Homo sapiens: one gene and its partners. The protein of the gene in region 4 purifies or fractionates together with the protein of the main gene of each other region. This does not show direct contact. Each region holds a gene or a part of one and is shown on either strand. Other genes may lie near its edges.

Region 1 (4,944 bases), on a different chromosome or scaffold from region 4:
GGGCTGGTGTAGGGCTCTTGTTGGCCCGGGGATGGGAAAGGCCATTGGGGAGGGCTTCGTTGGGTACCTCGTGAACAGAATGGGCAGCGGTCAGGACAGGTGTTCAGACGCCAACTCCAAGTTCTAGGCAGTGGTCTTGACCCTCCTCATCTATAAAACGATGTATGACATTTGAAACCATGTGCGTAATGTATCCTGGCACGGGGTAAGCACCCGGGAATTGGAAGCTGTGATTCTTATTTGGGGGTCCCTTCTCTCTTTTGGGGTCATTTGCTTTTTGGGGAACATCATGGTGGAACATTGAACTCCGCGGGCCCCTTGTTTGCGTGAGGATTTTCTCACCTGCCTTCCAGCCCTGATTCTTCTCGACTATGGGCCAGGCTGGGGGACCCTGGGATCGAGAGAACTTTAATGAGTGGGTGCCTCTTTCCCCCAGGGCAGTGCCAAGGAGCTGTCCCCTGCCGCCTTGGAGAAAAGGCGGCGGAGAAAGCAGGAACGGGACCGGAAGAAGAGGAAGCGAAAGGAGCTGCGGGCGAAAGAGAAGGCCAGGAAGGCTGAGGAGGCCACGGAGGCCCAGGAGGTGGTGGAGGCAACCCCAGAGGGGGCCTGCACGGAGCCGCGGGAGCCGCCCGGGCTGATCTTCAATAAGGTGAGCGGGAGCTGGGTCCTTGGGCGGGCTGGGTCGGCTTCAGGCCTCAGCGTTGCCCCTTGTTAGCTTCATGATCTCTCTCCGAACCCCATCATGTCTGTAAGGTGGTGACGGGGACCTCGCAGGTCCCTTAGGGTACTGGCCAAGGCTGGGGCCTAGTGCAGGGCTGGCATGAGCTGATGTCATACCTTCCTCCCAGGTGGAGGTGAGCGAAGACGAGCCGGCCAGCAAGGCGCAGCGCAGAAAAGAGAAGAGGCAGAGGGTGAAGGGGAACCTCACGCCGCTGACCGGGAGGAACTACCGGCAGCTGCTGGAGCGCCTGCAGGCACGGCAGAGCCGGCTGGACGAGCTGCGCGGCCAGGATGAGGGGAAGGCGCAGGAGCTGGAGGCGAAGATGAAGTGGACCAACCTCCTCTACAAGGCGGAGGGCGTGAAGATCCGTGACGACGAACGCCTGCTGCAGGAGGCCCTGAAGCGCAAGGAGAAGCGCAGGGCGCAGCGGCAGCGCCGGTGGGAGAAGCGCACGGCCGGCGTGGTGGAGAAGATGCAGCAGCGCCAGGACCGGCGGCGGCAGAACCTGCGCAGGAAGAAGGCGGCCCGCGCCGAGCGCCGCCTGCTCAGAGCCCGCAAGAAGGGCCGCATCCTGCCGCAGGACCTGGAGCGCGCAGGCCTGGTCTGAGTCTTTCCCACCTGGGGCCGCCGTCTTCCGTCCTAGGAGACTCCAGGACACCCTCTGAGTCCTTGACGCTGGCTCTGTCCCAGGATCTCCACAGACCTCGGCCTCTCCATGTGAGGGGGACACAGTGGTGCTCTGCTGAGTTGTGAGGGCCCAGATCACAGATCCCATGTGAGAAAGAGAGAGTTTCAGCGTCATCCTTGAACGCAGGATCCGGGACCTTCAGACCCAGGGAAAGGGTGAGGGAGACTGGGGCCTGGTCTGCTTTCCCGGGCCTGAAAGCTTCCCCGAGGTTTGCAGGGTCAGGGAGGAGGAACGGTGGGGGTGGGCAGTCACTGCCTGTTCCCCACTGCCTGTGTTCGCAGGAGCCACGGGACAGAAGACGGTGGCCTCTGCTGCCGGGCCACGTTAGTCCGCAGCTCACCCGAACAGAGGACAACCCTGAGGTGTGGCATATGGGCACCTGGCACTGGGAGTCGGGGGAGCACGTCCAGGCGTGGTGCATCCTGGGGCAGAACGCCATGGCTCCTCCCCGCTCTCTTGGCTTCTGCCTGTTGGGGTCTCATTCCTTTCTGTTCCCCAGTGCCCCGGGGCGGCATTTTACTGCTCAGAATTTGGAGGGAGGGAGCAGTACCTTCCCGGAGTCCACGCATGTGAGTTGGGTCAAGTGCATTGGACCTAGGGAAAGAGAAAGAAAGAATAAAAGCTGGAGAGAGAGTGAAGTGAATGCAAGATACAAAGTGGGATGGAAGAATTAAATCCAGAGTTCCAGGCAATCAAAATGAGTGCAGGTTGAAAGAAAACAGGTGAATTTTAGTGGCATATGGATGATAAAGCTGTAAATAAAATTCTTTTGATGAAACTCTCCGGTTATGAGACAAAGACTGTAACTGAACAGGAGCTGGTGTGACTGTTACCAGACAGAGGCAACTGATGAAAAAGCCCTGTGAAAGATAGGATGTGAGGTGAGCATGAGCTTGAGCTGAGAGACAGACACAACAGTATCTGAAAAGAATACATACTCTTTCCATGCATATATGGAACATGGATGGAAACTGACCACCTACTTTGTCCAGAAAAGAAGTCTTAAGATATTTCAAGGAATCAGTGTCGTTATCTGACCGTATCCCAATGTCATTAAAAAAAATTTGAGCTATTTTTTTTTGTTTTTTAGATAGAGTCTTGCTCTGTCACTCAGGCTGGAGTGCAGTGGCATTTCATATTTGGAATTTTTAAAACACACTTATAAATTACCTATGAGTTAAAGAATTCCGAATGGCTATTAGAAATATTTGGGACTAAAGGATAATGAAAATGCTACGTATTAAAATTTGTGGAACAGGGCCTGGCATGGTGGCTCATGCTGTCAATCCCAGCTCTTTGGGAGGCGGGTGGATCACTTGAGATCAGGAGTTCAAGGCTAGCCTGGACAACATGATAAAACCCCATCTCTATTAAAAATAAAAAATTAGCTGGGTGTGGTGGTGCAAACCTGTAGTCCCAGCTGCTTGGGAGGCTGAGGCGGGAGAATCACTTGAACCCAGGAGGTAGAGGCTGCAGTGAGCCAAGATCGAGCCGCTGCACTCCAGCCTGGGTGACAGAGCAAGACTGTCTCAAAAAGAAAAAATTTAAGATTTGTGGAACAGAGCTAAAGCAGCACAAAAAAACATAGCCCCTAAATGTATGTGCATCTACAGATAAATAGTGCCATTTATACACACATACGCTGTATGTCTGTATTTTTAAAGCTAAAGAAAAATAAGCATGCAGCTTAAGTTGGAACAACTCAAAGTAAATGGAAGAAAAATCTCCAAAACTGACTAAAAGTAATAGAAAGCCTGAGTTGTAATCACTGATGAAATTGAGTCAGTAGTTAAGAATGTTCCCCTAGACGGTTTTACAGGGAAGTTCCACGATATAGAGAACAGGTAATTCCAGACGTAGACAAATTCTAACAGAATCAATTGAGAGAACACTTCATTCGTGAACTTAGCTTTGATACCAAAACTAGGTAAGAGAAAGGGAAGTTACCAAATACCTGTGGGCGGCAAGCCACCCAGGCGCCGAGGCAAGAGACAGAGGACACGAGCTGTTCCAGTATAATAAAATATAAAACAAGAATAGTTACAGCAGATATAGATCTTAGATATGATTACATATGAATATCATTAATCATTAGTTTGTAGCAATTACCTTTTATTCCAATATTATAATAATCCTCGCTCTATAATCATAGCCTAGGAAAAACCAGGCCATACAGAGATAGGAGCTGAGGGGACATAGGTGTGACCAGAAGACAAGAGTGCGAGCCTTCTGTTATGCCCGGACAGGGCCACCAGAGGGCTCCTTGGTCTAGCGGTGACGCCAGCGTCTGGGAAGACGCCCGTTGCCAGGTGGACCATGGTCTAGCAGTAGCAAAAAGTATCAAGGAACAACACCCGCTACTTAGCAGACCGGGAAAGGGAGTGTCCCTTTCCCTGGAGGAGTTTAGAGAAGACTCTGCTCTTCCACCTCTTGTGGAGGGCCTGACATCCGGCAGGCCTGCCCGCAGTTATCTGGAGGCCTAACCGTCTCCCTGTGATGCTGTGCTTCAGTGGTCACGCTCCTAGTCCGCCTTCATGTTCCATCCTGTACACCTGGCTCTGCCTTCTAGATAGCAGTAGTAAATTAGTGAAAGTACTAAAAGTCTCTGATATGCAGAAGTAATGGCATAAGCTGTCTTTCTCTCTGTCTCCTCTCTCTCTCTGCCTCGGCTGCCAGGCAGGGAAGGGCACCCTGTCCAGTGGACACGTGATCCACGTGACCTTACCTATCATTGGAGATGACTCACACTCTTTACCCTGCCCCTTTTGCTTTGTATCCAATAAATAACAATGCAGCCAGACATTCGGGGCCACTACCGGTCTCCGAGCATTGGTAGTAGTGGTCTCCCGGGCCCAGCTGCCTTTTCTTTTATCTCTTTGTCTTGTGTGTGTATTTCTACACTCTCTCATTGCTGCACACAGGGAGGGAGAGACCCACGGACCCTGTGGGGCTGGTCCCTACAAATACCAATGTCAAGATTTTAGACAATAATAAACCAAGTTTAGCAAAGTGCCACACTGGATTTAATTCAGAATTGCAAAGCAGTTTCAATGCCAGAGAATCAAGAGTGTAATTCATATCAATAGATTAAAGGAGCAAAACCCACGTGACCATCTCAATGGTTGCAGAACAGGAACACAGTAAATGACGCGACAGCCATTTATAACGAGTTTTTAGCAAACTAGGAATTAAGGTATTTCCTTACTCTGATAAGGGGATTTGGAGCCAGGCATGGACCCATCTTGAAACTACATTCTGGGTCAGGCAAATGTAGATGTATTGGAGGGAAAGACATCCCCATGGGTTCCCAAGAGGTGAAGTCATCATAGTGAACTAAGGGGCCAGTGAGGGTCTGGAAAAGGCCACTGCCATCACCTGGCTACAGAGACTGAAGAGGCGGGGGGGGGTCTCGTCCTGAGCAGAGACAGGACAACTGGGTGGGCCAGTGAGGGCTGCAGGTGGGGGAAGCTGAGAACCCAGCAATATTTTACTGCCACTGGATGTCTGCACAAGGAACCTATGCCAGCCAGGGAGG
Region 2 (7,387 bases), on a different chromosome or scaffold from region 4:
AAATGATCATGAAATACCAATTCCAGTAAACACAAAGTACTTCTACATTTGAAACAGATTGCCCAAAAGCCATTTAACCTCTTGCAACAGAGCACGTAATGATTTCTGCTAGATGAATAACAACTAATGGTGACGTTCTAAAAAATCTGGTTACTGTTTACTTTAAAAAAAAAACACATACATACTTGAGTTTTTTGGGTAATTATTCAAAGGCTGGTTTAAATGAATTTTTCACGTAGAGGGTGATTTACGCCGGAATTCCAAATTCTAAAACAAACTGCAAAGTAGATGACTACACATATTAAGTTCTTTGACATTTGTATTTTAGTCACATCTTTTAGGACAGACGGAGATGGAGAATCTAATTACCAAACAAATTAAGACCAGTTAGCGGAATGCCACACTCAGCAAATCCCTGTGGTAGAGGCTACCTCAGCAGAACTCGGAGTTTTGATGACTGTCCAAGTGCCACAATGTCATGATCTACATTTTGGCATTAAAAAACACATTTTCTGGTGGCTTTCCTAACTACAGTCCTGTAGGTTTTGTTATATCTGGCCATATTTAACTCTGAGATTTAATGCGCCATTTGTGGAGGTCAGGGCTGTGAGAAACAAGACCTCTACTTTTGAGTATTGTGAAACCATCACTATTTCACCGCCAGCTACCCATGTCCTTAACCAAAAGTTAACACTTTATCCTAACGACACTCACGTACAATTATATTTGAGAATATATAACTCCTATTTGGAGGAAGTGGGGGTGAGAACAGCAAAGGCTTCATCAGTCTCAGCTAGCAGTCAAGGGCATGAAGGAAAAGAGAAAGGATGACAGCACCCAGTGCTCACCTGCGCTCCTTTTGCCTATACATATTCAGGCGCCGGATGGTGGCCCGGTCCCTCATGTTTTGGCCTCCTGCTCCCTGCACTCGATCTACAAAAGGCAGAAGTACACAGTGCACTATTTGATAACCAACCAGTATAACCAACAAGTCATTGCTTAAAATGCAACAAGTAGTTCACCCAAATTAGGTAAGAAGCCACCAACCACAAAAATCTCTACTTTCTCCATATGTTGCTCCAATAATTAGTACTTGAAGCTACATGGTATGACAAAGCTGACCCAATCTTTGATCTTCGATAGGATTGTATTTGAGAAGAATAGCTAATATTTTTGAGCACTTATGATGGCACTGTGTTATCCAAATTATAGGCATCATCTGATTTAATCTATACAATAATCCTATAGATATATTATCCCCATGCTGCGGAGTGAGAAACTGAGGCACAGTGGTCAGACACCTTGCCCAAGGTCAAACCGTTACTAAATGGCAGAGCCAGAATTTGTACATGAGCATTTGATCACCATCTATGGTCTTAACCACGAAGATACCTACCTCTGTGTCTCAGTTTAACAAATATTGAGTGCCTGCTCCATGCAAGGCACCATGGAGACTATAATTTTGATATATGTGTTCTTACTTTCTTAATGTTTGATTTTTGTTTAATCAACACAGCAATTCTTGCCTTACATCTCAAAGAGAAAGAGAAGGACAAACGAATAGGGTAATACTAGCCTAGCTTCTCATTTTGGGAGCCCTTTATTTACCTATTTATTCATTTATTCATTATTATTATCTTTTTTTTGAGACAGAGTCGTGCTCTGTCACCCAGGCTGGAGTGCAGTGTCGCGATCTCAGCTCACTACAACCTCCACCTCCCCGGTTCATGCAATTCTTCCACCTCAGCCTCCCGAGTAGCTGGGATTACGGGCATCCGCCATCATGCCCGGCTAATCTTTGTATTTTTGTAGAGAGGGGGTTTCATCATGTTGGTCAGGCTGGTCTTGAACTCCTGACCTCGGGTGATCCGACCGCCTCGGCCTCCCAAAGTGCTGGGATTACAGGCGTGAGCCACCACACCTGGCCAGGAGCCCCTTAAATCACCTGTCTGGTCCTGAAGTGATACAGTAGAAGACAGGCTGAAACCACAGCCCATTGGCTCTCCTAACAGTCTCTAACAGTAGAAACTGGCGGCTCTACTACTACTCACTAACTGTTGCAATTATGACAGGCCACTTCCTGTATTTTGATTCAGTCTCTTCACCTGTAAAATCATAATCTCTAAGGGCCTTTTGGGGTCTAACATTCTGAGATTCCAGTTTGTGCAAAGTGAATAATTTATTATCAATCCGGAATAAACATTCAACTTGCATTAAAATTGTCAAAAATTCTAAACCATATTTTAAAACAAAGTTTTATTAATTAAACCTGAATGGAAGGAACTCTCCCATAGGATGTCTTGTTAATCGTACAGGTGGAACCTCGCCAAAACTTACACACATCTCCTAAACAGCCTTACTGCAATGATCATACTGACTTCTTTGTAGGGTTCTCTAAGCACTTTACCAGATAGAATAATTCCAAGGGCCAAAACTATAAGCCCTTTCTCATTTTAAAGGTCAAAGCTAAGGTGGCAGGCAAGTATGATCACGTGTAAAAGGCCCGAAGGGTCAACCTACACCATTTTTAATCTGACTTTCTCTGCATCTCTCAACTGGAGAGGACCCAAGGCTGTCAGCCTGAGTGTTCACTTTCCTTGACTTCAGACCAGTTGACTACACTTTGGCCTGCCAGGCGTGCACTGAGCCCTCCTCAGTTCCCCCCTGAGAAGAAACCACCACAAATATTGCTTTCCTTTTTCCCTTTTCATCCCCAACAGCCACCCCGCTCGTAGTCATTCTAAGCAATGCCACTCGAGTAACCCTCCTTCCCCTCCAGTGCTCCTCGGAGCCCTTCCCTATACTTCCTCCAAGCTCCACCCTCGATCAGCCCTGCCGCCTGTACCTGGGTTTGTGCTGGCCTTGGACGGGTTGATGGTGCTCCGTCCTTTGTACTTGGGCTTCACCATCTTGGCGACGAGACCGGGACCGGAGTGCGAGGTCCGGCTTACGTGGTGAAACAAACTTTTATGTTCCCAAGCCCGGCCGAAGACACCCGCCTGAACCACGCCGGACCACGTGTGCACGACGTACGTCACTTCCGCTCGCGTCCCTCTCGGCCTCAGAGCGACTTCCTGTGAACGCGCGGCGCGCGCCGTCACCCTCCTGGCTCCGCCCCCGCTCCAGCCGCCTAGGCGTCGCCCTGCGTGGAGCCCCAGCCCGCTCCAGCCCTAGCAACCGCCAAGCTGCCCGTTCATAGCAACCGCCTAGTTAACCTGAACGCGCGGCCAGAGCTCCCAGTTGGGTCCACCTCCGAATAAAGAAGCTTCTTCCCAGGCCAGTGGCACAAGCTTAAGTTTGTCTTCTGAATTTGTCTTCTAAGTCCTTCCAAAAGTTGCCGACCACACAGCAGCCAAATATCCGTTAGGAGGTGTCATTCTCTTCCTTACAACTCCAGTGGCTTATCATCACTCTTAGAATGAGAGGTAGGGGAAGGGAGAAGGGAGAAACAGACAGAGACAGAGATTGATTCAAACTTTTTGCCATCCCTACAGGATTCTGTGATCTGGCCCCTGCCTGCCTATTTATCTAATCTCATGTGTACGTCCCTCCCTCTGGTTATTCTGACATTTACACTGGATATTCTCTCTGCCTGAATCACTCTTTCCCAGAATCTTTGCATAGCTGTCATTCAATCCTAAGCTCAAATATCACCTATTGGTAGGCCTGCAAGAATTAGCAAATAGAAATACAGGACACCAAATTAAATTAGAATTTCAGAGAAAAAAAATGAATACTTTTCTTTAGTACACCTCCAACAGTGCCTGGAAAATACTTAGACTAAAAAAGTATTCATCGTTTGCCTGAAATTCAAATGTAACTGTACGTTCTGTATTTTATCTGGTGACCCTTCCTGCTGTGAGAACTCATTCCTGTCTAATTTGTCTAAATCAGCCACCTTTCACCCTTTCACAGTTATTCTGTTACAGTATTCTGTTTTATTTATTTCATGGCATTTATCACTAGTTGAATTTTTTTTACAAGTTTATTGGCTGCTTCCCCCAAACTAGAATGTAAGATTCTTAAAAGCAGGGACCTTGTTAATTTGTTCACTGCTGTGTCTTTAAGACTTGAATAGCATCTGAAACAAAGGACTCAAAAAATATTCATTAAGTGAAAGAATGAGTAGATGGGAATGTCTCTTGCCTTGAGGATGAAGGAAGGCATTAAGACCCAGTGATTTCTGTTTCTACTAGCCAGAATAAAGTGTCTAGATGCCAGTGTTTGAACCAAGAAGCCCTCTCTCTTTTTACAATTTATTTTTTGTTTGTTTGTTTTTGTTTTTGTTTTTTGAGACGGAGTCTCGCTCTTGTTGCCCAGGCTGGAGTGCAGTGGCCCGGTCTCGGTTCACTGCAACCTCCACCTCCCGGGTTCAAGCAATTCTCCTGCCTCAGCCTCCCAAGTAGCTGAGATTACAGGCGCATGGTATCATGCCCAGCTAATTTTTGTATTTTTAGTAGAGACGGGCTTTCACCACATTGGCCAGGCTGGTCTCAAACTCCTGACCTCAGGTGATCCACCTGCCTCAGCCTCCCAAAGTGCTGGGATTACAAGTGTGAGCCACCTCGCCTGGTCCCTCTCTCTTTTTTGGTACCTCAAATTGTCAGAAAATGGCCATCTTTGTACCCTCTGGATAGGCCAAAGAAGAGATGGTTAGGCAAGAGGAAGGGTGGATTCATGCAGTGTAGCTCATTTCATAAAAACAAACAATTTGTTATAAAGTGAGGTATTCTAATTGAGCAGGGGATGATTGAGTCTTTATTTCTCTGAGTTTGAAACAAACCCCAAAACATTCTCTTTAGAGCAAAAGCAGGCCATGTCATAGGCTAGAGCTGGAAATACCTTCTGTCCCTCAAGCTTCGCTTTTATTGCCCCAAGGGCAAGTATCATGAGATTAAATGCAGCTCTGCTGGGAAGGCCCTGACTGTGACCTGTGTTAGGGAAGCTCTGAGAGCTATTTGGAAAAAACTTCATGATCAGTGAAGATGCCCCCTTCCACCCCACACTGTCCCTCTGATCCCCAAAACAAGGATACCATAGCCTCCTCCCAGAGAGAAGATTCAGTTAATGTGTTTCTGATGCCTCAAGTTGGTGCAAACCAGAATAAACACGGATGGCAAAAATCAGCCTATGAGCTCATTCAGGCTTTGATCAGAGACATAATTTCATTATGAAATTTTGAATCAGGCTGTTGTGAAGTCTTGCCAAGGAGTTTCATTTTCCCAGATGATATGGTGGGTTGTTTCTCTCCTGTTCTCATACTCTGCTTGCATTTATCTTACAAACTTTCCATCTATTTTTATAATCTGACCCATCAATCCTTTTACAACAATATTTGCCGATCTCGACAACCAACTTCAATTCTACCAGCAGATAAAAAGCCTGATCAAGGTAAGTCAAGCTTAAGTTACTGGTTTGATTTGCCTGCCCTGCTTGCCGCATTGTAATGCAGTGACTATTTTTCACTCTCTTTTCTGATGTCATGCCAACTAGCAGAGGCAAGATACACCTCCAGGTCTACAGTTCCTCAGCTTTAAAACAGATGCAATAGCTTAACTACTCTGAAAGACTGCAATAAGATCATATGAGTTACAGTATATGAAAGCATCGCAGACATGGTACACATCATGCAGATGGGATGCTTTCTATTTTTCTTCTTTTTTTTTTTTTTTTTTTTGAGATGGAGTCTTGCCCTTTCACCAGGCTGGAGTGCAGTGGCATGATCTCAGCTCACTGCAAACTCTGCCTCCTAGATTCAAGCTATTCTCATGCCTCAGCCTCCCAAGTAGCTGGGATTACAGGCACGCACCACCATGCCCAGCTAATTTTTGTGTTTTTAGTAGAGACGGGGTTTCGCCATGTTGGCCAGGCTGGTCTCAATTTCCTGACCTCGAGATCTTCCCGCCTCGGTCTCCCAAAGTGCTGGGATTACAGGCATGAGCCACTGCACCGGCCAGGGATGCTTTCTATTTTTCTCAAAATCCAAGGTGAGCTACTCATCCCCTCAAATGTTGCTCCTGGTAACCACAGGTTTGTGTGAATGAGAAGACCTTAATGGATGGAGACTGGCTGGAAATGCCATGTTCTGGACTGGTGTCTTCACAGGAAGCAGACAATCCTGACCTTACTTTTTTTTTTTTTTTTTTTTTTTTCAGATAGAGTCTTGCTCTGTCACCCAGGCTGGAGTGCAATGGCACGATCTCAGCTCACTGCAACCTCTGCCTCATCAGTTCAAGCAATTCTCCTGCCTCAGCCTCCCGAGTAGCTGGGATTGCAGGCACCCACCAGGACACCCAGCTAATTGTTGTATTTTCAGTAGAGATGGGGTTTCGCCATGTTGGCCAGGCTGGTCTTGAACTCATGACCTCAGGTGATCCACTTGCCTCAGTCTCCCAAAGTGCTGGGATTATAGGCATGAGCCAGTGTGCCGGGCCCTGACCTCACTTTTATCTTCATTCTGTAAAAAGTTTATCACTGGGGTCTAATGGGCAAATAGCAGCAGCTTCTAAAGCAACATTTTTTAAAGTGTGGTCTGAGAACCACAAGCATCAGAATCACTTGGGGGATCTGTTTTAAAATGCTGGGCATGGTGGCTCATGCCTGGAATCCCAGCACTTTGGGAAGCAGAGGCAGGTGGATCGCTTGAGCGCAGGAGTTCGAGATCAGCCTGGGTGACATGGTAAAACTTTGTTTCTACAAAACATACAAAAATTAGCCAGGCGTGGTGGCTCAAACCTGTAGTCCCAGGTACTTGGGAGGCTGAAGCTGGAGAATCTCTTGAGCCTGGGAAGTGGAGCCTGCAGTGAGATCGTGCCACTGCACTCCAGCCTGGGTGACAGAGTGAGATCCTGTCTCAAAAATAAAATAAAATAAAACAAAAATGCAGATTTCTGGGTTTTATCCCAGAGCTTCCAAAATCAGACCATCTTGGGGGTGGGGCCAAGAGAATCTACATTTTAGCAAGCTCCTCAAGTGATTCTTGTATATACAAAAGTGAAGTCTTTTCCAAGAGTCACTCGGAGGCTTTCTGACCTGCTGACCAGAAGGCAGCCCTGGAAGATCAAGCTTCTTTCCTACCTATCTTAAATCATCTTGTTCTTCTTAGCAGAGCCAGGGTGAGGAAGGCTGCTGCAGTGTCTAATGCACTCTGAAAATATATATCTTGGCTCTGCCCCAAATGCCTTGATATTTATGCTGCAGCCGGAGGGTCGTTATCCTTTGGCAATGCTCATTTGTAAGGCCATTAGCTCTTAATTAGTGCCGGCTTGTTGAGTTGTACTTCCCAGTTGAACTGCTAGCAGAAGCTGCTCTTTTGGGGCCTCTTGTGTCTCTCCTCTGGCAAGCCCATGAAGCATTGACCCGTGCCTGCTGAGGCCAAGAGTTGGGC
Region 3 (7,031 bases), on a different chromosome or scaffold from region 4:
GCCTGGGCAACATGACAAAACCCTGTCTCTACCAAAAACAAGAAATTAGTCAAGCATGGGCTGGGCGAGGTGGCTCACGCCTGTAATCCCAGCACTTTGGGAGGCCGAGGCAGGCGGATCACTTGAGGTCAAGAGATCGAGACCATCTTGGCAACATGGTGAAACCCCGTCTCCACTAAAAATACAAAAATCAGCTGGGCGTGGTGGTGCATGCCTGTAGTCCCAGCTACTCGGGAAGCTGAGGCAAGAGAATCGCTTGAACCCGGGAGGCGGAGGTTGCGTTGAGCCGAGATCATGCCACTGCACTCCAGCTTAACGACAGAGTGAGACTCCGTCTCAAAAAAAAAAAAAAAAAAAAGAAAGAAAGAAAGAAATTAGCCAGGCATGGTGGTGTGTAACTATAGGCCCAACTACTTGGGAGGCTGAGGTGGGAGGATTGCTTGAGCTTGGGGGGGGGGGGGGTGGCGGTTTGCAGTGACCCGAGATGGTGCCACTGCACTCCAGCCAAAGACAGAGCAAGACCACATCTAAAAAAAAAAAAAGAAAGGAAGAAAAGAAAAAAAAGAAAAGAGAAATACGCAAAGGGGAATGTGGAGGCAGAAAAGTTCTGTACTCACACAGAGTCTAACCAAGTTGGTGTGAACCCAGTGTTTTTCTAATTCAACTGCTGAACATCTACATGGCTTCCTGTGTTGACCACAAGGCATAGGGGACTCTGAACACAGGGTAAGAATCTAACTAGGAGTAAAATACTCTTCCAAAAAGCAAAGCAGATTATTTTCTCTGCAAGAAAATTCACATGATAGCACAAAGTATAATGCTAAGCACACAACAGGCATTTAATAAATGCTTGCTAAATTAATTCATGCAGACAGAGATTTCCTTGCATTCTGCTGTAATTCAGTCAGATGTAAAAGACAATTCTTAGAAGAAAAAGAACAAAACCAAGAAACTGCTAAACTCAGCTATGCATGCTGACAACATGTCCAGAAGAAAGTCTGTTGATGGCCCGGCACAGTGGCTCACGCCTGTAATCCTAGCACTTTGGGAGGCCGAGGTGGGCAGATCACTTGAGGTCAGGAGTTCGAGACCAGCCTGGCTAACATGGTGCAATCCCTTCTCTACTAAAAATACAAAAATTAGCCAGGCGTGGTGGCGCACGCCTATAGTCCCAGCTATTCAGGGGGCTGAGGCAGGAGAACTGCTTGAGCCCAGGAGGAGGAGGTTGCAGTGAGTCAAGATTGCACCGCTGCACTACAGCCTGGGCAACAGAGTGAGACTTCGTCTCAAAACAAACAAACAAAATCTGGCACCACAGCCTGAGGGAAATGCTTGATCTGACCCAAGATCAGAATGAAAGCTCCAAAATGGTCAGGGCCACGTCTCACCTCCTTGATGCGCACCCCTTTCTCTCCACTAGTAGCACTCAGCAGCAGCTTTCTGAGCTGTTTGTCATCTACAGCCTTTGGGAGATTGTGCAGGCAGAGCCTGGTTCGGGAGACAAAGATATTCTGGTCCTTGAGTTTCTGATGCTTCAGCAGCTCAAACTGAAAGAACAACCAATGGTTAACAGTACAACCCACTCTTTTTAAGAGGTAGGCTCATAATTCTCCAAAAGGAAAGAATTATGATCCTCATCCCATAACCACACATATAGAAAACGGATGGAAACTGCCCACACCGCAGCTTTACAATGCCTAGTATAGGGAAAGAAAAGTCCAAGGGAACAAGATGGTGGGTGGGTAATAGTAAAATCATAGGCTCTGGAGACCCATCCCTAACTGGAGAAATTACATAAAATTTTAAAGCCACAATTTTTCATCTATAAAACGAAACAGTAGATCAAGGTCTCTGAGCACTGAGGTGAGGCCAAAATGAGATAATATAAGGCTGGGCAGGGTGGCTCATGCCTGTAATCCGAGCACTTTGGGAGGCCAGGGCAGGCAGATCACCCGAGGTCAGGAGTTCAAGATCAGCCTGGCCAACATGGTGAAACCCTGTCTCTACTAAAAATACAAAAATTAGCCAGGCATAGTAGTGCATGCCTGTAATCCCAGCTACTCGGGAGGCTGAAGCAGGAGAATCGCTTGAACCTGGGAGCCGGAGGTTGTGGTGAGCCAGGATCGTGCCATTGCACTCCAGCCTGGGCAGCAAGAGTGAAATTCGGTCAAAAAAAAAAAAAAATTCCCTAGCTCAAAATGTAGCTCAGAACAAACAACAAATAATACTGTGATTAATATCTATGCCCAGTCCTCATCTACCCACCAGCTCAACTGATTATCTAATCCTTCCAAAAGGAAATGGAAGTTATTCAAAGAATACTTGACAGAATGCTGTGTTGTCTCAACTCTGCCACCCTGAGGCAAAGGAGTATCAATGACCACAGAACCATATTTTGCTCTTAGAGCAATACCCTCAACTATGCTGCCACAAAACCCCAGTTCCTGCGTGATCTGTGTCTAAAATGAAATGAAAGATGACATTCTTCTCCCAATTAGTTTTTTTTAAACCAAGTTGGTAGAAAAAAGTTTTCAATTAAAAGTTTTTCTTTTGTCAAGTCTTCTCAGTCCTGCTGCTTCTTGTTTGGTAAAAGTACCAACAGATCACAAAATAAACAAATCCCTTGGAAAACGACTATTAAAGGAACATCTGAAAAGGCTATCATGTTTAAGTTCAACAGACTATTTTTCTGTCAGGAAAAGCTGTGCCTGCTGTGAATTTATAATGCATACCTATCATTGAATGAGCTTTTTGCTAACAAAATTAGTTTTAAATTAAATATGTCATTATTGCACTGTGATCAGACAAGGGTATATAGTGCCCTTATAAAATTGAGGCTTTAAAATTTTCTGTAATTTCTCCAGTTAAGGATGGGTCTCCAGAGCCTATGATTTCTAGGTGTTCACTACCACAAAAGTTGAAAACACTAGTGCAGAATCTGTGCCCACTGAAAAAAAGACGCACTGCCTCCTGCTGTCATTACACTCTCACCCCTGTTCCTCATCTGCATGTTAAGGTTCCATAGCTAATTCTGTTCACAGTTATGCATCTTTACCCTTCTAGGCTGGCTTGGCTTTTTGAAAGTAAGTTATATGGGAAAAAGTAAAAATTACTGGGAACATTACCAAGCAGCAAAGGAATATGAGTTATCGGTTAACATCGGAAACATCCATAAAATGGAGTTTTTCTAAAATGATTTTATAATCTGGAGATTATAACTCCTCCCAACTGACAGCTACCCCTTTCAAGAGCCATATCTTCTCCCTTCTCTAATAACTCCAGCTCATTCTGATCTTCCTCTTTTACATTATTCTGTGTTTATACTGACACCTAATTACATGTAGCAATAGCCTCTGACTGTCTACTGCATGATGTAGCAGCATGTGTTCAGCAAACATTTACTGCCAAGCACTAGGGAAACAAATAATAAGACACAGTTCTTTTATACCAGCATACAAAACAGATAGAATACTATGTATGATGTTGGGTTACTTGCTATTTCACCTATGTGCTTTTCTCCCTAACAGGGCAATAAGTATGGTCTGTGACCATACTGGGCTCTTTGATGAGCACATCTAGCATTCGATAACTATTTTTGATTGATTTATAGGCCACGCAGAACGTGAAGGTCAATGCCTAATCTACTCACCCGTTCTCTTTTGGCCATATCAGCAGCACTCACACCCTCTGCAGCCTTCGTCCCAGCACGAATCACTGCAGAAAGAGGGAAAAAGGCCAAGACATCAACAAGGGAATTTTCACTGAGCAACAAGAGGAATGTGATTTGAATGATGCAAACTCTTTGTACAGGGCCCAGAGGACTATCTTGGCCAGGACACGGTGGCATTTGGTTAGGTCCAGAAATAGGCTACAGGGCTAAGTTCTGGGCTCAGAGCTGCTCTCAAGGACTAAAACTCTAAACATTTTGTGATTTTATTCCTCTTCTCCTTCTCTCCCCTCAAAGAATCTTCACGTACATGCCCAAAGTCAGAAAGAAAGGCCTAGAAGAAGTATGGAACATAAGTACATTTTGGGCATTTAGAATGCACAATGTTCCACCTATAATCTGCCCTTGGAACTTAACTTTGCTGTTCCTTATATACTTGAGGTCCATTACTAAACAGTGAGATAAGCCAGCCGAAAACAGTTATGTTGCCATAGAAGGCTGGTGTCGAAGGCTAAAGGACATTACTAGTACAGGCTGTGAAGCTATGGAGGAGGTGAGCTGATAAATGCTGTGTGACCTAGAAGAATTTTTTTAAAAATTTAAAGCTAATTTTTTTGTCTTTCTGACACTAAAGGAAAGTATTGGGTGCACATTTTAAATCCATGAATAATCCAAAAGAGTAATTTTAGTCATAATGAAAACCTCTTATTAGAAATGATGACAAGAAGCAAAGGTATTTTGAGTTCTTCCTCCCCCTTTGCCTTGCCAATCCTCTATTGAAAAAGACTAAAGGCAACCAGGCAGAAAAGATAATGGGACAGTTAATCCACAAAAACGAGTGAAGGTTTACTAATAGAGAGCCACATTTATTAAAGTGGAATGATCATATAACACTGTTAAAGAGAACATTTGGGTTTTTAATTTGAAACATGCTTCCAGGCATACTATTGCTTGATCAATGATTATGGCACAGGGCCAGGTACTTAGAAGTGTGGGTTACATCTCCCTACTCACAGCCTTCTCGGGCCAGATAGAGATTCCGGGTGCCAGTCGGCTTCTTCACCTTCGTCGTCTGAAGCTTTGCAGCCTCATCACGGGTCACCGCCAAGTCAACCTTGAGCTGCCGGCCATCCAGTTTAAGCCCACCAGCCTGTAACAGATCACAACCCTTTCTTAAAACACATAATGGCCGGGCACAGTGGCTCACACCTGTAAACCGAGCACTTTGGGAGGCTGAGGCAGGTGGATCACCTGAGGTCAGGAGTTCAAGGCCAGCCTGGCCAACATGGTGAAACCTCGTCTCTACTAAAAATACAAAAATTAGCCGGGCATGGTGGTGTGCGCCTGTAATCCTACTCAGGAGGCTGAGGCAGGAGAATGGCATGAACCTGGGAGACGGAGCTTGCAGTGAGCGGACATCGCGCAACTACACTCCAGCCTGGGAGACAGAGCGAGACTCCACCTCAAAAAAAATAAAATAAAATAAAAAAATAACAAAACAAAACAACACATAATGAGTAGAAACTAGAAACTAAGCACCTGACAAGAACACCACAGAAAGGGATACAGCAAACATCAATTACGCTATGGAAGCCAAGCCCTACGACGTTTCAGCTCAGCTAGCTACAAATGGATCACTGGGCCTCACAATATTTAGTATAGCTGTGCAAAAGGCCACATGTGTATTTCAGGCAGTCAGCAGTAAAGAATTTATTTTCTGGGAGTTGATTAGTCCCAAAGTAGACCCAAACTGAGGAAAATTATCTGTAACCAGGCAAATGTCTAGTATTGTAAAGTAAGCTAGTGAAATAGTAGAGTACTTACTCAAGAGGACTTAAGAAATAACAGCAATATTAGATAACATTATACTCGACTATAGAACAAATGGAGTAATTCTCCATCACCCACACACATTCTCTCTCAAACATCTACTCTACTTCACAGACGACCTTAATACCTCATCCTAGTCTTTCATGTTATCAGTCTAGGATAGAGGCTGACACAGACAGCAAGCAACAAATATCAGATACGTTATTATCCCCTTTTCCTCACCTATGAAGTAGAGATCATAATTCTGCCTACCTCAAAGGGCTGATGTAATGATTAAGATAATGCATGTAAAGTTCAGTGCCTAACACAAAGTGCTAAATAAGTGTTAGTTTTATTATTACTGACAAGAAAAATAATAATAAAGCTTTGTATAAATACCAGATGTTGCCCCTAAGAGCCAAACTGCCTCCTGTGTTATAAGGTAAAGGAAATATCTTCCTTACCTCATTCTCTGGAGAAGCAGCTAGAAGGCATTTCTGAGCTGCTTCTTGAGTCATGAACTGGGCAAATGCACAACCTGCACAAGGAGACACAATTCAGTGAGATCCCAAACTCCCACAGATAAACCAAAGACAACATTGCAAATGGCAACAGCCTGACACAGAGTGGAAGGGATAGGTGGCATCCATTTATTAAGTACAGCCATGTAGCCGGGTGCAGTGGCTCACACCTGTAATCCCGGCACTTTGGGAGGCCGATGCGGGCAGATCATGAGGTCAAGAGATCAAGACCATCCTGGCCAACACAGTGAAACCCCGTCGCTACTAAAAATACAAAAAATTAGCCAGGCGTGGTGGCGGGCACCTGTAGTCCCAGTTACTTGGGAGGCTGAGGCAGGAGAATGGCGTAAACCTGGGAGGCGGAGTTGCAGCGAGCCAAGATAGTGCCACTGCACTCCAGCCTGGGCAACAGAGCAAGACTCCGTCTCAAAAAAAAAAAAAAAAAAAAGTACAGCCATGTACTTGCATAAGGACGTTTTGGTCAGTGACAGACTGCATATACAACAGTGGTCCCAGAAGATTACAATGGATCTGCCCTATACAGTTGTACCATTTTTTATCTTTTATACTGCATTTTACTATACCTTTTCTATGTTTAGAAATACTTAGATACACATATACTTACCATTATGTTACAACTGCCTACAACATTCAGTATAACAACATGCTGTGCTGTACAGGTTTGTAGCCTAGGAGCACATATGACCTATGTGTGTAGTAGGCCATACCACCTAGGTTTGTATAAGTACACTATGACATTCACACAATGACAAAATCACCAAATAATGAACTTTGCAGAATGTATCCCCATCATTAAGTGACGCATATTGCACTATGACACAGGCACTATGTTAGGTACCAAATAATCAAGACAAAGATACCACTGCTCTTAATGAAATTTTATTATTACTTCCTTCATCTGTTCTAATTCTTCTTAGAACTTTAGTCTCATGATCTCTCTTAATAAGAAATATCCATGTGAAGGCTGGGTGTGGTGGCTTACACTTGTAATCCCAGCTCTTTAGGAGACCAAG
Region 4 (7,031 bases):
TGAACACCAATCCTTCACAAACTATTCCACACAACAGAAGAAAATGGAACATGTTCCAACCATTTTATGAGGCCAGTATTATCCTGATACCTGTACCTGCTGTTACACTGGACAAAGATATCACAAGAAAACTACAGATCAATATTGCTTATAACTACAAATGCAAAAATCCTTAACAAAATACCAGCAAAATGAATCCAGCAACATATTAAAAAAATCATTATATGTCATGACCAAGTGGGATATATCCCAGGAATGCAAGGTTGGCTCACCATTCAAAAACCAATATAATACACTATATTACTAAAATAAAAGACAAAAAAAAACATGATCATCTGAATAGAAGCAGAAAAACATTTGACAAAATCTAACATCATTCCTACAAAAACTCTCAGCAAACCAGGAACAAAAGGAAATTTCCTTATTCTGATAAAAACCTACAGCTGACATAGCACACTAAGTGAAGGAAGCCAGTCACAAAAGACCACATATTGTATGATTCCGCTAATATGAAATGTCCAGAGTTGGCAGATATATAGAGACAGAAAGCAGATTAGTGGCTTTTGGTGGTTGGAGAGAACTAAGAGGGAATGCTAATGGGTATGGAGTTTCTTTTGGGGGTGTTGAGATACTCTAAAATTAGGTAGTTATGATGGTTATACAACTCTGAATATATAAAAATCCACTTATATAGTTTAAAAGGCCAAATTTATAGTATGTAAACTATCTCAATAAAGCTATTATATAAATAAGAATGCACCCTTCAAAATTCCACAAGCCCTTGCTACAAATAACCATTTACCCAAAAAGGTTTACAGCTAGTTTTAAATGGTTCTTCACATGGCTGACCCTTGAACAACATGGATTTGAACTCCATGGGCCCACTTATACAAAAATTTTCTTCTGCCTCTGCCACCCCTGAGATACCAAGGCCAACTCTTCTTCTTCCCCCTCCTCCTCAGCTATTCGACATGAAGATGTGGAGGATGAAGACCTTCATGATGATGTTTCCATTTCAAGAACAGTAAATAAATTTTCTCTTCCTTATGATTTTCTTAATAACATTCTTTTTGTAACTTACTTTAATGTAAGAATACAGTATATATCAGGGGTCCCCAACCCCCAGGCCATGGACTGGTACCAATCCATGGCCTGTTAGGAACCGGGCTGCATAGCAGGACATGAGTGGTGGGGGCAGGGGGAGTAAGTGAGCAAGTGAAGCTTAATCTGTATTTACAGCTGCTCCCCATCACTCATTTTACACCTGAGCTCTGTCTCCTGTCAGATCAGCAGTAGCATTAGATTCTCATAGGAGTGTGAACCCTATTGTGAACAGTGCATTCAAGGGATCTAGGTTGTGTACTCCTTATGCAAATCTAATGCCTGATGATCTGTCACTGTCTCCCATCGTCATCAGAGGGAACCATCTAGTTGCAAGAAAACAAGCTCAGGGCTCCCACTGGTTTTATATTATGGTGAGTTGTATAGTGATTACATTACATATTACAGTGTAGTGATAATAGAAATAAAAAGTGCACAATAAATGTGATGTGCTTGAGTCATCCTGAAACCATCCCCGCCCCCCAACACCGTCTGTGGAAAAATTGTCTTCCCTGAAACTGATCTCTGGTGCCAAAACTAGGTTGGGGACAGATGTAGTAATATGTACATAACAAAATATGTATTAATCAATTGTTTGTTACTGGTACGGCTTCTGGTCAAGAGTAGGTTACCAGTAAGTAGTTAAGGTTTGGGAGGACTGAAAGTGATGCGTGAATTTTCGACCACGTGAGAGGCTGGTGCCCCTAACTTCCACGTTACTCAAGGGTCAAGTATATAAAGAACAATCTAGGGCCGGGCGCAGTGGCTAATGCCTGTAATCCCAGCACTTTAGGAGGCGGAAGCGAGTGGATCACCCGAGGTCAGGAGTTCGAGACCAGCCTGGCCAACATGGTGAAACCCCATCTCTACTAAAAATACAAAAATTAGCCAGAAATGGTGGCACACACCTGTAATCCCAGCTACTCAGGAAGCTGAGGTGGGAGAATCACTTGAATCCGGGAGGTGAAAGTTGCAGTGGGTCAAGATCAAACTCTGTCACTGCCTGGGTGACAGAGCAAGACTTTGTCTCAAAAAAAAGAACAATCTAAATCTTGTAGACTGCCTCAAAGATTCATTCCCATCACAAACCTATGTGTACCCGACATTTACGGTGCACACTCAATGCTGCAAAAGAGGACAAAAATCTCTAACAAAAAGGACATTTTTTCCCTGCCTATACAAAGACAGGCAAGTTTCCTCTTTATGAAATACAAACAGAAGAACCTGGAGGCTGGATGAGACTAACCTACAGGGCATGGAAGGCATGAGCACAGCCCACGGACACCCCCAGCTCACACTAACAGGGCAGGGTAGCCGCACTGCACACACAGCTCCCAGCAGGGCAGGACCACAACACTCACCTCGAGTTCTTCACTGTCTTTGGGCTTCTCTTCAGAGGTCTGTTTAACAAAGTCAGGGATGAGGATTTCCAGTGTAGCTCGGGCTATGAAAAAAAAGAGCCCGAGGGTGAGGCTTGGGCACTGCCCTCTTCTCACCACCCTGCAGAGTGAACTGTGCACTGCTGCCTCCCATCCCCACAGCTCAGAGGCTGAGCGAGGGCCCTGAGGAGAGACAGCACTTCAGTGACAGGGTCAGGAGAGGACAGAAGGAAAAGCCCAGACGTGTGGCAGGCTACCAGAAAGCCTCACGGGCCACACTGGGTGTGTGCGCTCTCACCCTGGGGTCCTGGGAGCAGGCAGGGAGGAGCTCGGAGCTGTATGTTAGGGAACCACTTCGGTGGCACGTGAGAAAACAGCTTTGCGGGCCCTGGACCATGCAGGGAGGCCTGAGAGCAGGCTACTGCAGGTACCTAGACCAGGTGGCAGCAGCAGTGGCTGGCGTGGGTGGAGAGATGCAGCCAGGTCTGAGAGACGCTAGAGGGAGCTGCTAGAGGGCAGGGCACGGATATGCCCACTGGGGTCGGAGTTGCCATAGCCAAGGGCTGATGGCTCCATAGACCCCACAGAGCTATCAGTGCTGGCAAGACATGGAGCCAAGCTGTCTATAGGGCAGCCAAGAGTCTGGGCAAGGGAAGTGGGTTCCAGCACATAGGGAGGAAAGCGGGTGATCCCGCAGAGGGAAGAGCACACAGCCACGCCCAAGGCATCTCCACCCCCACAAAAGGCCCCACTGCAAGTTATCTGTCAAAACCTCCACCACACCCCCTTTGTTGAGCTGCAAAAGTCTCTTAGGCAGAATCTAAGATGGGCAGCAGGCCTTCTGGAAAACACACGGCAATGACAGATACCTCGAGAATCAACCTGTGGGTGCGAGGGCCTGGGGTACACCCAACACCACCCTACAAGAAGCCAACTAACCCTGGACGCTGAGGCAAATGGCTTTTTGTGAAAGAATGTCAACTACCACGAATGCAGGGCATGAATGCAAACGGCAAGGGCATGGTCCAAAAGGGCAGTGGGTCTTCGCCAGGACACACAGCCTTCCCAGAGCTGCGCTGTGCCAGGTGTTCTGTGTGGCTAGGCCCAAACATGGAGTGGGAGGACTCAGGAAATAGTGCCGGTAAGAGCCAGCACCACTGGGGGAGGATGCCAACAGCATGCTGGCCCGCTTCTCCTCCCTCCTGGCATGCCCACATGCTGCTCAGTTTAAAAACAAACAAGCACTACAGCATGTGCCCAGCACAGCCCAGTTGGCTCTAGGCACACCCCTGAATATGTGCAGGGCCAGGACTAGGGAGGGACATACTGGCCCAGCTGTCACTCAGTAGAGAGGCCTTCTACTTTTTTTTTTTTAGACAGAGTCTTGCACTGTCGCCCAGGCTGGAGTGCAGTGGCACGATCTCAGCTCACTGCAAGCTCTGCCTCGCTTGTTCACGCCATTCTCCTGCCTCAGCCTCCCGAGTAGCTGAGACTACAGGTGCCCGCCACCACACCCGGCTAATTTTTTGTATTTTTAGTAGAGAGAGGGTTTCACCGTGTTAGCCAGGATGGTCTCGATCTCCTGACCTCGTGATCTGCCCACTTCAGCCTCCCAAAGTGCTGGGATTACAGGCATGAGACACCACGCCCGGCCGAGGCCTTCTACTTTTAAGTCTCACATTTTGCTCTATTTGAGTCTTTTCCAATGAGCATGTAATTTTAAAAATCAAAGTAGATGATTACATAAATAAAATAAACATGCCCCACCCACATCCCCCACTTGTCACCACTGCTCAGCCCCTCCCTAACCAAGCAGCGAGGCAGACACAGCAGGCAGCACGTATCTTTGACACCCAAGCAAGCACGTTACCAGCTTTATTCTTCGCAAGTTTTTTGCTGCTTGCAGTTCCAGATCCGTAAGTCACACCATCAATGGTCACCGAGGCACCAAAAGGCTCACTTGGGTTCTCTTAAAATTAAAATTACTTGTTTTAAAACATACGAGTCAAGACATCAAAAGCGTGTGCACAGTCTGCCCACACCGACAGACAAGGCGCAGTCAGGGGCTGTCCCTGCAGAGAGTGGGCCTGTGCTTGACTGCAGAGACCTGGGGCTCCCTGGGACTGGAGACGGGCAGCAGACAAGCAGCAGCAAAGGGCACAGCTGGGAAAGTGGAGGGAAATGAGGCACGTGGGAGATGGTGAGCCAGAGGGGCAGCAGGAGGCTGGGGGCAGAGCCTCCTACGACAGGGACCAAGGTCTACGAAAGACGGACACAGGACTGCCGGAATGGGAAAGCACAAGATGTGGCTTGCCAAAGAAACACCACCTCAAAGGATGAGTGACCCCCAGGCTCCAGCTTCCAAGGGGAAGACAGACTGGTCTTCACAAAGGTGTGATGAGGGCACCCAAGGAAGACAGAGCTGGTGGGAAATGCATGCCCAAGAACCCTTCAGACACCCAGGGGCACCAGGAGACCAGGGAAAGGACCCAGTGCACAGTGGGGAGGCCTTGCTCGCAATAAGGCTGTCCATGACAACGCAGGATCAGAAACCAGCAAGGCAGATGGGGCAGGACAAGAGGAAGGTGGGGAGAGGGGACAGACTGGAAGGGAAAAGCAGAGCCACCCACTCAGATGGGGCGCGGCTCCAGGAAACAAGCCACCCATCTGCAGCACGCTGCTCTCTACCCTTCCCTTTCCTCCCGTTCCAGTAGAGTAGGGCTAGCGGTCAGCGCCTGCCTCCCCAGCCCTGACCAAAGTTACACCTTGTGATTCTTTAGGACTGAAATGGGGAAGGTTAGACTTACCACATTCAAAGAAATTATAGACAGGGCGGACCTTGAGGACACGCTGCATGTACTCGTGCAGGATGCAGACCTCGGATTTCCCGTTGGGGTTAATAACAAACTCTGTGACAAAAAGAACCATCTCAGCAAGTGTGAAGCAGTGCCACAAGCTAGCACACAGCTTCCTGTTACCATGTCAGTAACTAGGGGCTCACGACCGTGAATGTGGCAGACCCCTGCATTCATGGGATAAACATAAACTTTGAACGAAATGCAACTCATAAAACATGCCCTCAACACATCACATTAGAAATAACAGCATAACCAGTCTGCTGATGTTAAAATGCAGAGGCTTATACCTTTCTTTGTGGGTGCATCTTGCACTGATAAAGTAATGAGCTTCTGATTGGCTGGCAAGATGGGCCTCTCGGACTCCGCCTGCTTCCGCTTCATTTCCCGATTGAATTGCCGCCGCTCAGCCCAAGTCCTGAATTTTTTCACAGTAACTTGCTCAAAGTCAAAACGCTTCTCCAGGTAGCTTCGAAATTCCTCGAGATCTGTCCCAGATTTACCAGAGAAACAAATTACTTAACTTCCAACATAGGAGTCAGGTTCTCACAGCCCAGTGCATGGGGCAGGCCCAGGCCACATGACACTATTTCCTTTCCCCGTCCCTTTCAAAGGGGAGGGAAGCAAAGAATGAAGGCCTCCCTACACCAGCTCAGATTATTCTGGCAGGTCCCTTCTGGATGAATTTCTGAGATGTTCTTTTACTTTATTTGGGGCAGGAAGAATACAAAAATGAAAAGGAAAAAAGACAGCTTAAAAAAGTCAGATGGCCTTCGGGACTTCCTCCCTGTATCAAAACAGGTGCCCGAATGCCAGCAGCACCCGGGCTCCATGCGCCCGCCACCTCTCTGACCACCTCACTCTTTTCCTTCTGGCCATCCTGGCCACCTCTGTAGTCAGCAACACACCCAGGCAGCTCCCTGCACAGGGCCTCGCATTTGTCACATTTCCTCCCGGGCCACTTCCCCATCCTCAGCAACAGCCCCCATCACAGGCTCTTCTAGGGCACCCCACACTCCACGGAGTTATGAGACAGGCTGGGTAGTGATGTACAGACAAATAGAAACCTAGAAAATGGAAAGTGCTCTTTGAAAGTAATCCAGCAGGTGGGTTCACAGAGACCTGCCACACCTGAAGAGAGAACTAAGACTTAAATGGCGGGACTAGGCTAAAAGACATGGAAGAGAGAATGGGAAACACCAGTACACATCCAGCAAGCAATTGCAGGATTGAAGAGGGAACTATCCACAGAATGGTGACAGTTTCCCAACACTGAGTCATGGATTAAAGAGGCTCACTGAGCTCATCAAGACAAATCAAAACAATGCCACATGAGCACATCCTACTGAAAAAGCAAGACTTAGGGAAAGATCATACAAACAACCAGAGAGAAAACGGCCCACTGCCAGTGCCAGCAGCCATCTCCCCAGCAGCCTCAGCCATGCAGACACCACAGAGCCCACAGACAGGAGCCTAGGGTGCTGCACCCAGGCAGGTTCTTGCAAGGACAGGAAGACAAGCCTTTCAGCCACACCAACAGTGGAGGTGCACAGCCCCTTGCTCACAAGTACAACTAGGAACTATGAACAATTATGGCCTTCATTAGAAAAACAAAGCTCATGGGTCCCAGGAGGCAAGAAGGGAAGAGTCCTTCAAAAACTCACCAACGGATTCATCTTTGCACACCTCGACTTTG

The links.
Region 1: the proteins of DGCR8 (region 4) and SURF6 purify together in Homo sapiens (co-immunoprecipitation; 3 studies listed by BioGRID and IntAct, with this or other methods). This does not show direct contact.
Region 2: the proteins of DGCR8 (region 4) and GNL2 purify together in Homo sapiens (affinity purification with mass spectrometry; 2 studies listed by BioGRID and IntAct, with this or other methods). This does not show direct contact.
Region 3: the proteins of DGCR8 (region 4) and RBM28 purify together in Homo sapiens (affinity purification with mass spectrometry; 2 studies listed by BioGRID and IntAct, with this or other methods). This does not show direct contact.

What each region holds. Positions count from the first base shown.
Region 1 is NC_000009.12:133,328,253-133,333,196, reverse strand, and holds the end of SURF6 (surfeit locus protein 6), read left to right. Parts: intron 1-436; coding exon 437-649; intron 650-848; coding exon 849-1,328; 3' UTR 1,329-4,421; downstream 4,422-4,944. UniProt on the Homo sapiens protein: Binds to both DNA and RNA in vitro, with a stronger binding capacity for RNA. May represent a nucleolar constitutive protein involved in ribosomal biosynthesis or assembly.
Region 2 is NC_000001.11:37,592,914-37,600,300, forward strand, and holds the start of GNL2 (nucleolar GTP-binding protein 2), read right to left. Parts: upstream 3,025-7,387; 5' UTR 2,910-3,024; coding exon 2,846-2,909; intron 934-2,845; coding exon 849-933; intron 1-848. UniProt on the Homo sapiens protein: GTPase that associates with pre-60S ribosomal subunits in the nucleolus and is required for their nuclear export and maturation.
Region 3 is NC_000007.14:128,319,878-128,326,908, forward strand, and holds part of RBM28 (RNA-binding protein 28), read right to left. Parts: intron 6,015-7,031; coding exon 5,941-6,014; intron 4,818-5,940; coding exon 4,682-4,817; intron 3,715-4,681; coding exon 3,650-3,714; intron 1,548-3,649; coding exon 1,389-1,547; intron 1-1,388. UniProt on the Homo sapiens protein: Nucleolar component of the spliceosomal ribonucleoprotein complexes.
Region 4 is NC_000022.11:20,090,227-20,097,257, reverse strand, and holds part of DGCR8 (microprocessor complex subunit DGCR8), read right to left. Parts: coding exon 7,000-7,031; intron 5,824-6,999; coding exon 5,626-5,823; intron 5,390-5,625; coding exon 5,288-5,389; intron 4,450-5,287; coding exon 4,351-4,449; intron 2,546-4,350; coding exon 2,463-2,545; intron 1-2,462.